Regions from separate parts of the Homo sapiens genome. Here all the other regions are reported to be linked to region 3. Evidence: microRNA targets listed by miRTarBase, many of them from high-throughput screens and not tested one by one. Region 3 holds a microRNA gene; each other region holds the end of a gene's coding sequence.
The links. Region 3 holds the annotated microRNA hsa-miR-4257 (CCAGAGGUGGGGACUGAG, at 804-821, opposite strand). A microRNA usually pairs through its seed, bases 2 to 8, with sites in the 3' UTR of a target mRNA and lowers its output. Matches are read on the target gene's strand: a 7mer-m8 pairs with bases 2 to 8, a 7mer-A1 pairs with bases 2 to 7 and ends in A, and an 8mer does both.

Region 1 (3,249 bases), not on the chromosome of region 3:
GTGAAGGATGGAGAGAACAGAGGGTCACCAATTTCTCCTGCCAGCAAAGAGAACCATGGGAGGGGGTCAGGTAGGGGTGGGGAGTGGTGGAGTGACAAACTTCGTAGGTGTGGGAGGCACAGAGGATGCTGTTGTGGGTATGTCAGTCAGTATTCCTGGAGGCTGGCCTCTTTCCTTTTCTGCCCTGGTACATGGCCATGCGCTTGAGGAAGCAGATGGGCCCTCTGAAGGAGGCCACCCTGGGAGAAGGAGCCTGGGGTCGTCTCTCTCTTGAGGGAGGTAGGGAGCAAGGGCGTGGGCTGCATCCCCTGAGCATCTGAGAGGCACCCCTCACCCCGATCTGCAGTGCTGCCATGGGCCAGGGCTAGGGATGGCTGACTGCCTTCAGAAAGTGCTATATCCCCTGCCTGCTGTCTCCAGCCCAGAGAGTGACAGGCAGGTGGCTTCCCAGGTGGCACATGGCTTATGGCTCCTTTTTCCTTGACTACTGCAGACCAGTCTTTTGAGGATTCTGACAAGTTTCACTCTCCAGCCCGGGGGCTTCAGGGCCTGGCATACTCCTAATTACGGTAGGTCTCTGGCTGGGTCTGGCCTCCCCCGCCCCACCTGGCCCTGAGATGTGCTTGCTCTCTAAAGGCCTTCATCCTGTGCTCAAGCCTCCCCGCTAGCAGCCCCACAGGGATGGGGAGCTGGGGTCCAAGTCTTCCTCCCCGGGGCCCATCTAGACAGCTTTCTGAGGTACTTGGCCCACCCCAGTAACCCAAGCTGACCAGGTAGAGAGAAGTGGCTTCCTGTCCCCTGGCAGCCAGCCTTCCTCCCCGACCTTCTTCTCTCCCTCTCTCGCCCCACCAGGTCTGCAGCTGTTCCCATGGAGCCCGGACTGGAGGTCCCTCTGGGATTCACAGCCACACCCCGGATGGTGGCACAGACAGATGCAGGGCCAGGGCCATGGGCGGACCTCAACCCGTGAGCTGAACGGGGAGAGGCCTTCACCCCATGCTCAAGCCTCCCCGCTAGCAGCCCCACAGGCTTCTCTCGCCTCCCTGTCTTGGGGTAGTCAGAAGCCCCAGCACTGTGCAGATGCTCTTGGCAGGACAGCATCGCAGGGAGGTGCTGGGATTCTGGGCCTCACTGTCTGGGTCTTGGTTCCTCTGAAAGAGATGGATCTTGTGCAGACCAGGGTTGTTGAGTGAGGGGAGCGTGGGATGGGGACCGTGGGAAAGAGGACAGCTCAGGGAGAAGTGACCTGGAAAGGTCCTGTTTGCATCTGACCCATCTCAACTGGCCCAGCATCCCAACTTCTCTGCAGCGAAAGGGTGGCGCCCCGCAGCCTCGGGAGGCCTGCCCAGGCTCCCGTGGAGCTTCCAACAGCTGCTTGGCCCCGCAGCTGCCCCCACTTCCTTTGAGACCTGCACTCTCATGCTTGCCGCATCATGCCTCCCTGTGGGGGCTTTGGGCATGGAGGAGGCAGAAGAGGGGGTGCCAGGCCTCCTGTATTTGGGGTCTTCCCCCAGTGGATGTCTCATGGACTCTGGCCCCACACACTCACAATGACTCTGGCTGGCCCCACGCAGCGGGCCCAGCCGCCCCCCAGGTGGCCTCACATTCTGCTCTGCTAAGTTTGGAGAAAACAGAACAATAAACCAGATGCAGGTGGTGCCCGCCCGGCCTCTCACCTGCCTCCTTGGTGTGAGTTTGCTTTTCTTAGCAGTTCAGCAGCTCTAGGGGAGGCTCCAAACCCTGCCCCCGGGGAGCCCTCTTGCGCCTCGGGCTTTTTAAGCAGCCCCAGAGTTCGACTAAAGCAAGTATTCCCTGCCCCACGTCTGTTCTTGGGGACTGTTGGGGGAGGGGGAGCAGGCTAGCAGGCCTGAGCTCTGCCTGGGAGCATAATAGGGCCACTGAGGACTCAGCTGCCCAGCTCTCCAGTCAAGATCAAAGTGGTGGTTGTCAGGACATTGCTGAGAACCAGGACAGACCAAACCAAATATGACCCAGATGTCCAGAGGCTCAGAAATTAGATCCAATCCAACACAGAGGCTGCAGGGCCACGCCTGGGCTGGGTGGGGCAGCTTGTGGCTCCCAGGGCTGTTTATCTGAGCTGCACCCCAATCCCATCCCACGGCCCCCACCCCCAGGCCTAGGCACCTTACGGCTCACCTGCCTCAGAGTTTGGGTGGAAGGAGGGTAAGGAGGCAAGATTCCTATGCCCATTCGCTCCACCACCCACCCCTCTAGGATGAGTCCCAGTTGTCCCCCTGAGATATGTCCCCTGGATGATGGTCTGGCTGTCTGACCCTGAAAGCCACTTTTTTGACCCATGATCCGGTGAGCCCCGTGTCTAGCCCCAGGCCTCAGGCTTTCCTCTTTCTCTTCCTGGCCCTGCTCCTGGGCTCTGGCCTCTGGACACCCTGGCCCTTTCAACCCATGCGTCCATGACCTGCAAATGCAGCCTTCTGGACAGGCACACTTGCCAGGGCACATGGGCTGGTCCTGTCTTTCAGAGGCCTCTACTTCTTTCTCTGGTGTTCTTGGCTAGCACCTGGGATTCATCTCTCCTGGACACAGGGCAAGAGGTCATGCTGCCTTCTGGTCATCCTGTCCCATTCTCAGTGCTTGCGTGGCCTCCCACTCAGAGCACCAAAGCCTGCCTGCCCACGCCCTGCTTTATTTGGCTCTGAGCAGCTCCCATTGCCCAGGGCCCTCCCAGCTGAGGCCCTGCAAAGTTCTAATCTGCACTGGACACAGGTGATAACTGGATAGTGGTCACACTCTGGTTCCCAGGATGGGTCAGGTGCCATGGTGGATATAAATGAGACATGATGTCTGTCCCTAACAATCCCACAATGCTGCTCAAGCCACCATTTGAGTCCACACTGTCCTTTTCCTTCATCCACAGCAGACATAGCTAACCAGTTACCATGTTTGCAATGGCCTGGATTGTGCCTCCCTAAAATCCATATGTTGAAGCATTAACCTCCCATGTGACTGTATTGAGGATGGAGCCTTTAAGGAGGTGATTAAGGTTGGACGAGGTCATCAGAGTAGAGTCTTGATCCAATAGAAGTTGTGCTCTTATAAGAAGAGGAAGAGACACCAGAGTGCACTCTCTCTGTCAGGTAAGGACACAGAGAAGGCAGCCGTCTGCAAACCAGGAAGAGAGCCCTCACCAGGAATCAAATCAACTGGCACCTTGGCCTGTGACTTGCGGCCTCTAGGACTGTAAGAAAGCAAAATTCTGTGGTTTAAGCC
Region 2 (3,249 bases), not on the chromosome of region 3:
AAGTTATCTCCCTTCAGTCAGTTATCCAGATATTGCCAAATATCTCAACACAGTATCTGGCAGAACAAATACATAGAAAAATATTTTATATACATTATGCCCCATCACAATGGATAGCAAAGGATTAACTGTGCCCATGATCATGAAAGAGCTACCACTTCCACACTTTGGGCAGAGAGGGAGATGAAGTCCTAGGCTAATTAAATGATGGATAGGCTCCTCAAGTGTATGTTTTTCTAAGGGTTATCATCAATATGTGCACACTCATGGAAATGCCACCTTTCAAGCCACTTTAAAAACACAGGTAATAAGAAAACAAACTGATTAGTAAAAAACATTTGATTTCATAGACTCTGTTGCATGCAACCCAACTATTTCATAAGGTAAAAACAGTGCTATATTTTTGATAATGTCCCATTATCTTGCTTTAATACTATCAACAACTGCTTGTACAAAAGAAACAGCCATGATTGAATTCTGATTCTTTTTTTCTTGCTTTCTGCCAGAGTTTGCCAAGAACTGCTTTAGCCCCCAGCCCACAGCACTGTGGGGCTGCAAGGAATGCTCTATAGGGTCCAGGATTTTAAGAGTCAAGGCAAGAATGAGAGTAAGAAAAAAAAAAAAAAAAAGGAAAAAGGCTTACTTGGAGAGGCAGGTCAGGGACTCAGCACTTAAACAGGTTTGTAACAAATCCAAAGAGGAGAAAAGACATCTAAGAGAAATGTTCTTCCCTTCGGCAACATGATAAGCGAAACATATGTATAAAAAAATGTATAATTTCACCCAGTGGTGTGCTGATGAATGTTTATCAACCAGCAATCTGGAGAGGGAGAAAACCCCAATTTCTTACATATTGCTAATTTCTGTGGTGTAAATATTTCTACCATGGCCAATTTCAAGCCACTGTAGTAACAAGAAGGTAGTGAACATGGAGTTGAGAGGATACGTTCAGTAGCATACTGTTTGGTAATATTTCTACATACATACCTACTAGATGTAAATAATCTAAGAGGTTAGAAAATAGTAAAATGTAAGATTTTTGAGTACAGTATTTGTTACTTCTGTCCTTAATATAATTCATTCAGTTGTAAGTGCACATCATTTAATTTTAAATAATGGCTGTATTGAACAACCAGTTTGCAAAATTCTTGAAAATATAACAGTTGGCAAGCCTGTACAAGTTGACTCCAACACATCACACCTAAATGGGTGAAAGGGAAGGAAAAATCAGACTGAAAACCATAAACATTATTTACTATGTTTTTTAAATAGATAAGGAGATGAAGCCATAAACTAATTAAAGGATTTTCAGGGGCCAAAGGTGTTAGAATATTCTGCTTATGGTGTTCTCAAACATTAAAAAAATTTCAAGATAATGAGATGTTTCAAAGGACTTCAGAGACACAGATGTGGGTACTTACAATACAGGTAAATGTTCAATTTTACAAGGGCTATCTTAAACAGATTCCATGTGTTTTACAAGCTAAATAGAATAATATATTAATTATTTTCCTATTCACTTGTTTTATTGCTACTAGGCAACTCAGGAACACTCAGCTACTAAACAAATTCTGGAATTTGTTTAGTAACAAATTACAGAGAAAAGAGGAAAAAAAAGACAATGAATTGGAAGAAAGGGAGGGGAGAAAGGAGGAATAGAGGGTGAGTTGCCTTGGGCAGTGTCAGAATGTCACCAATCACAACCTCAGGCACTGACAGTTATCAGAGTTGTGAGCTTGAGCCAAAGGCTGCAGTCACCTGCTTCATTAGTTTAGCACTGCATTTTTACACCACTACATTGAAAGATTAATGCATACTACAATGCAACCATCTCACTTGTACTTTCACAGGCTTTGTCCTTGAGATGACATGCATCTGGATAAATAATTCACATTTTTCTCCTGACGTTTGCAAATGTCTGGATGGATCATATACTGTGGACAAAAATCTAGATAATTAACCTGAATGTTTATATTTAATCCAGTGATCTTGTTACACTAAAGACAAAGCAATAAATGCTTCTAAAATTTGCCAAAAAATGCAATCATCTGCATCAGACAGCCTTGATTAAGATACAATATTGTTGTTTTATTCAGGAATGTACTGTTTTAAAAGCTTCTCTCTTACTAAAATTTAGAAAATTTCTATCATGTTTGAAAAACTTTAAAACAGCTTTGTAAATAGCCTTTAAAGTCATGTTAAAGATTCAATTTATGTTGAATAGTCAGTAAAAGTAGGTGTGTAATTCATTTTGCTACCTGTGAGTCTGGCTTGATGCTACATTTGTGGGTTAATAAATAGACTTCTTTGCTACTGTTTTAAAGTGTCATAATGTTGTCTTGCTTTATGAAGATGACACTACTGATCTCCAATCAACAGGGCATGTGCATTTACTGATTTTTCTGGAACTAAGAGAGAATTTGTGCTAAATTGGTCACATTTTCACATGCAGTGAAAGATTGGCAATACTAACTTCTTATGTGGTCAGTAGAACACTTCTGATGTATTTAGCCTAACTCAAAGCTATGCATGTAAACAGAGATAGGCCTCTATCATAATCACAGTTACAAACACATATTATACACTAAATTCCTTTCAGTGATTAAAAAAACAAGTTCATGTAAGAAAGCAAGACAACCCAATAAGAAAGTGGTTAAATTCATTTTCCATGTCGTCACTCTCTAAAATCTGCATCGGTCCATTTGTCAAGTTGCCAGAAGTGCCCATGAGCAAATAAAACAATTGCATATATTACAAAATCCAAGATAAATAAGTAGTGCTAAAAAAGAATAACAATTAAATTATTAGTTATGTGGTTAACGGAAATGAACGAACTTTGATAAAATGGTCCTGATGGGGAAGAAGAAGAGTTTTTGTTTTTCAATGGCCATACCACAGTGAAACTTCACTTCTCCTCAAGGAAGTTTACCTTCGGTCTGCTTCAACTCTCTTCTTACGAACTAGGTAAGAAAGAAAGGAACAAAAAGACAAATTGAAGGGATATTCCTTAAATTCCAGATAAACAACATTAATCACATAAGATGACAATCTCACACACTTGAGGATACAGTTATCTTAAATTTTAATACTTAACCATGACAATCAATGGAAATGATAAATTCATCCAGTGTCTGGTGGAATTTACATTTAAATACATATATGTCTGATAGTTGGGTACTCGAGTGTTAGAACCTTCGAATTTCTATGGGATAGAAATTCCAGAAGAGACCCGTGAAACAGTGCACTTTG
Region 3 (3,215 bases):
CGCTACCAGTCCAAGGTCACATTCAGCAGCAGAGGGAGAACTACACCTCGGCCTCTTGGTGTTATGAGGCAAGGAACTGGGGAGTTGGCAGGGGAGGTGGGTGGGCTGTGGGGAATGGAGGCGTGGCCTGGAGAGATGGGGTGGGAGCCTAGGGGGAGATGAAAGGGTGGCAGGCAGGCTGCAGCTGCTCACTTGTCCAGAACTCACCTCCTGATCCAAGCAGAGCTGAGGGAGGGACAGAAGCAGCAGCAGATACAGCCAGGGCCTGCAAACCAAAGGCCAGGGGAGGGACGTCAGACTGGAGCCAGAGGGGGTGTTGCAACACTGCCCTCCGCCCCCAGCCGGCTCCCATATCCTGACTACCAACTTCTCAGAAAGCAGAAGTTACTCATCACTTCCCCTGCCCCTCCCAGTGGTCCCCTTTCCCTCACTTCCAGACACAGAGCCATCCCAGCACCTCCCCTTTTCCTCCCCCCCAACCCGTGGCCCCTTCTCTCACCTGCCAGTCCAGTTCTCCATCGCTCCCCCTCTACTGCCCCAGGGGGAGGCAGGAGCGGACTGGTCACAAAAACTACGCAGGCATCTGGGCGTGGAGGGTGCTCTCTGCAGGGACAGAAGCCTGGTGGTTACCTCTCCAGTGTCCAGAGAGCTTGGGGCTGGGAGGACAGCTCAGAGAATATGGAGGAGGGGGTGAAACTGGTCCATCCCTTTAGGATCCTCAGGGTGGGAGCAGGGAGGATCACTGCCTTGTCCATCTGTAGAGGCTACATGGTCAGGGGCTGACCTCAGCCCTCCAACTAAGGCTCAGTCCCCACCTCTGGGCCCTGTAGGGGCTTCTTAGCTCCTCCCCAAATCCTACCTAGGGACTGTTTCTAAGCCGGCTCAGGCACACACAAAAGGCTTTTTTTTTTTTTTTGAGATGGAGATCTCACTCTGTCATCCAGGCTGGAGGGCAGTGGTGCCACCAAAGCTCATTGCAGCCTCAAACTCACAGGCTCTCCTTCCTCAGCCTCCTGAGTAGGTGGGACTACATGCGTGCACCACCACACCCAGCTAATTTTGGTATTTTTTGGTGGAGATGGGATCCAGCTAAATTGCACAGGCTGGTCTTGAACTCCAGGCCTCAAGCGCTTCTCCTGCCTTGGCCTCCCAAAGTGCTGGGATGACAGGTGTGAGCCACCGCACCCAGCCAGAGGGCTCCTTCTAAAATGGTTGTCATCTGCTCCCACTCCTGCCCTCCCAGAGGTGCCTAGAAAGTAGAGGAGGAAGGCTCCACTGAGGATGCGCCAGACACTCTCTCTGAGGACCCACCAGAAGCCCCTTCCTTGGGTCTTCCAGACACAAGACCTTCCCCAGTCATCTCTCTGTCCTACTTGCCTCCCGGCTTTCTCTTCCCTTCTTAGATAAGCTCTTTAGGGAACATCCAGGCACATCTCATACACTTTTTGGCCAAGGGATAAGCTAAATGGGTTGACGGTTTAATCTCTAGAGAAGAAGCCGGCAATGTAACACCCACTCTGGGTGCCAGCATCTGGAGTTGGTTCAGTGAGGGCTTGTTTCCTGTGCGTCTCTACCAGCTGGGGAAGCGGGAAGGAGAGGTGCAGCCGGGGCTGCCTCATGCCCCAGCCACAGGCCTCTCATTCTGAAGAGCCGGGAAGTCCATCTGAAGTTCAGCTTTGAACACTGGAGAAGTGAGGCTTGGAAGCCACCCCAGCCACCAAGCCTGACTCTCTTTGCCCCCTTCTTCTCACTTTGAGTCCTTCCCACCCCTGCTCCTCATCCCACTCTTAGTTCTGCTTTCCAGGAAAAAAAAAATCTGTTTCTGTTGGATCTGAAAGGCACCCGGGAGAGGAATCCAGGGAGCCCTCGCATTGCTGAGGTGGGCCAGCTCTGGGGCAGAAAATGACCAAGAGAAGGGTAGGAATGTGCCTGGGGGCAGACACTCAGCCCCACTGCCCTCCCTGAGACCTAGGGTTCGGAATTTGAGGGAGGGGTCAGAGTGGCTGAGCCAGAGCGGGCGCCTCAGGGATTGGGGTTGGGGTGGGGGTTGCCGATGGCCACTCCTTCCCCTGGCTGGGCCGGCCACTAAGGTCAGCAACTCCACCCTGACTGAACGGGGGAGGCCAGGATCTCCAGAGAAGGGCCCATGTTCCACCCAAGTCTTCAGGCTCTGCCTGACTCTTGTTACTCCAGCTGAGGGAAGAAGAAATGGGGTGATAGTCACTGCCTGCCCCTTCTCTGATGCCGACCCCTCTTCATGCCCTCTCTGCCTCTGCTTCTCTCTGCCACCGAGATCTCTTCTCGCAGCCCCTCTCCACGGGTCTACCCAGTACACATAATCCCATCCCGAGCTGGGTTTGGCTTTGGCAGTTCCCTGGAGAAGTGAGGGGTGGGGGTGACGTGAGCTCCCGGGGCCCGGGCCAGGCCTGGCTCCCTCTCTGGAAAAGTCCCACCCCACCCTCCCCTGCGCAGCCCGGCAGGGGCCCATGCCCCCTCCTCTGCAGAAACACACGCACATTTATGCTTCTCACCCCTTTCCATGTCCCTCATTTGGTGTCGTTCCCGGCCCAGGACGAGGAAAGGAGAGGTCAGAGGTGGTCACTCTGGTGCCAGAGTAGACCCTGGTCTGGACAAACGCGGGCTCCTCCTGGCCACACCTCTCCACACTGCCCAGTGAAGACCAAGGAACAGAGACCTGCGCAGGGCTCACCCCTTCACCCCCAGGTCTCCCTGCTGGAGAGTGGTTGGACCCTGTGTTTCTGGGCCTAGCCATGGAGAATCCCTGTCCTGAGTCCGAATTCCCGGGCCCTCAGAGCCCTCCACTCCTGGGTCTGGCAGGCCACCCCAACAGGTGTCTTTCTTTTTTGTCAACCTCTTCTGCCATCGGGCTGAGCTGGATCAAGGGCACCCACCTGCGTCCCTCGCGGCGACCCTGTCCTCCAAGTTCAGGAGTGCAGTGGGGGACACACCGTCCGAGAGCACCCTCCTAGAGAGAGGGCAGGAGGCACCGGCCGCGCGGGGAGGTCATGGGTCTGTTTTCCAACTTTACTATGTGACTTAGGAGGAATTTTGGTTCACTCCCCGCCCGGGTGATGGGGCCAGAGTTCCACGGGATCAGACTCCCTCCCCAGGAATTCGACCCCAGGGGCTGGAAGATTGTCCGAGGCCACCGGAGCTGGGTCCGGGGTCGTGGCGGGGTCGCGACCGCACAGCGC

Region 1: the mRNA of EBF4 is a reported target of hsa-miR-4257. Seed matches in the 3' UTR shown: 7mer-A1 at 1,149-1,155.
Region 2: the mRNA of TMOD2 is a reported target of hsa-miR-4257. The part of its 3' UTR that is shown has no 7-base or 8-base seed match.

Annotation. Positions count from the first base shown.
Region 1 is chr20:2,758,416-2,761,664 of GRCh38, forward strand. EBF4 (EBF family member 4) reads left to right here. Exons shown (of 17, transcript NM_001395167.1): 16 at 494-569; 17 at 853-1,693. The coding sequence ends at 564. Among named protein-coding and RNA genes, the nearest start is that of CPXM1, 41 kb to the right of the region's middle. RefSeq lists an enhancer at 919-1,569.
Region 2 is chr15:51,808,131-51,811,379 of GRCh38, reverse strand. TMOD2 (tropomodulin 2) reads right to left here. Exons shown (of 10, transcript NM_014548.4): 10 at 1-2,960. The coding sequence ends at 2,926. Among named protein-coding and RNA genes, the nearest start is that of TMOD3, 20 kb to the left of the region's middle.
Region 3 is chr1:150,549,593-150,552,807 of GRCh38, reverse strand. MIR4257 (microRNA 4257) reads right to left here and starts at 879; the gene lies at 794-879. ADAMTSL4 (ADAMTS like 4) reads right to left here. Exons shown (of 19, transcript NM_019032.6): 2 at 2,913-2,986; 3 at 500-603; 4 at 208-265. The coding sequence starts at 519. LOC124904417 reads right to left here and starts at 2,518. Exons shown (of 1, transcript XM_047438226.1): 1 at 1,458-2,518. The coding sequence starts at 2,518. The coding sequence ends at 1,748. All of the region lies in intron 5 of ADAMTSL4-AS2 (ADAMTSL4 antisense RNA 2), which reads left to right. RefSeq lists enhancers at 146-1,015, 1,505-2,194.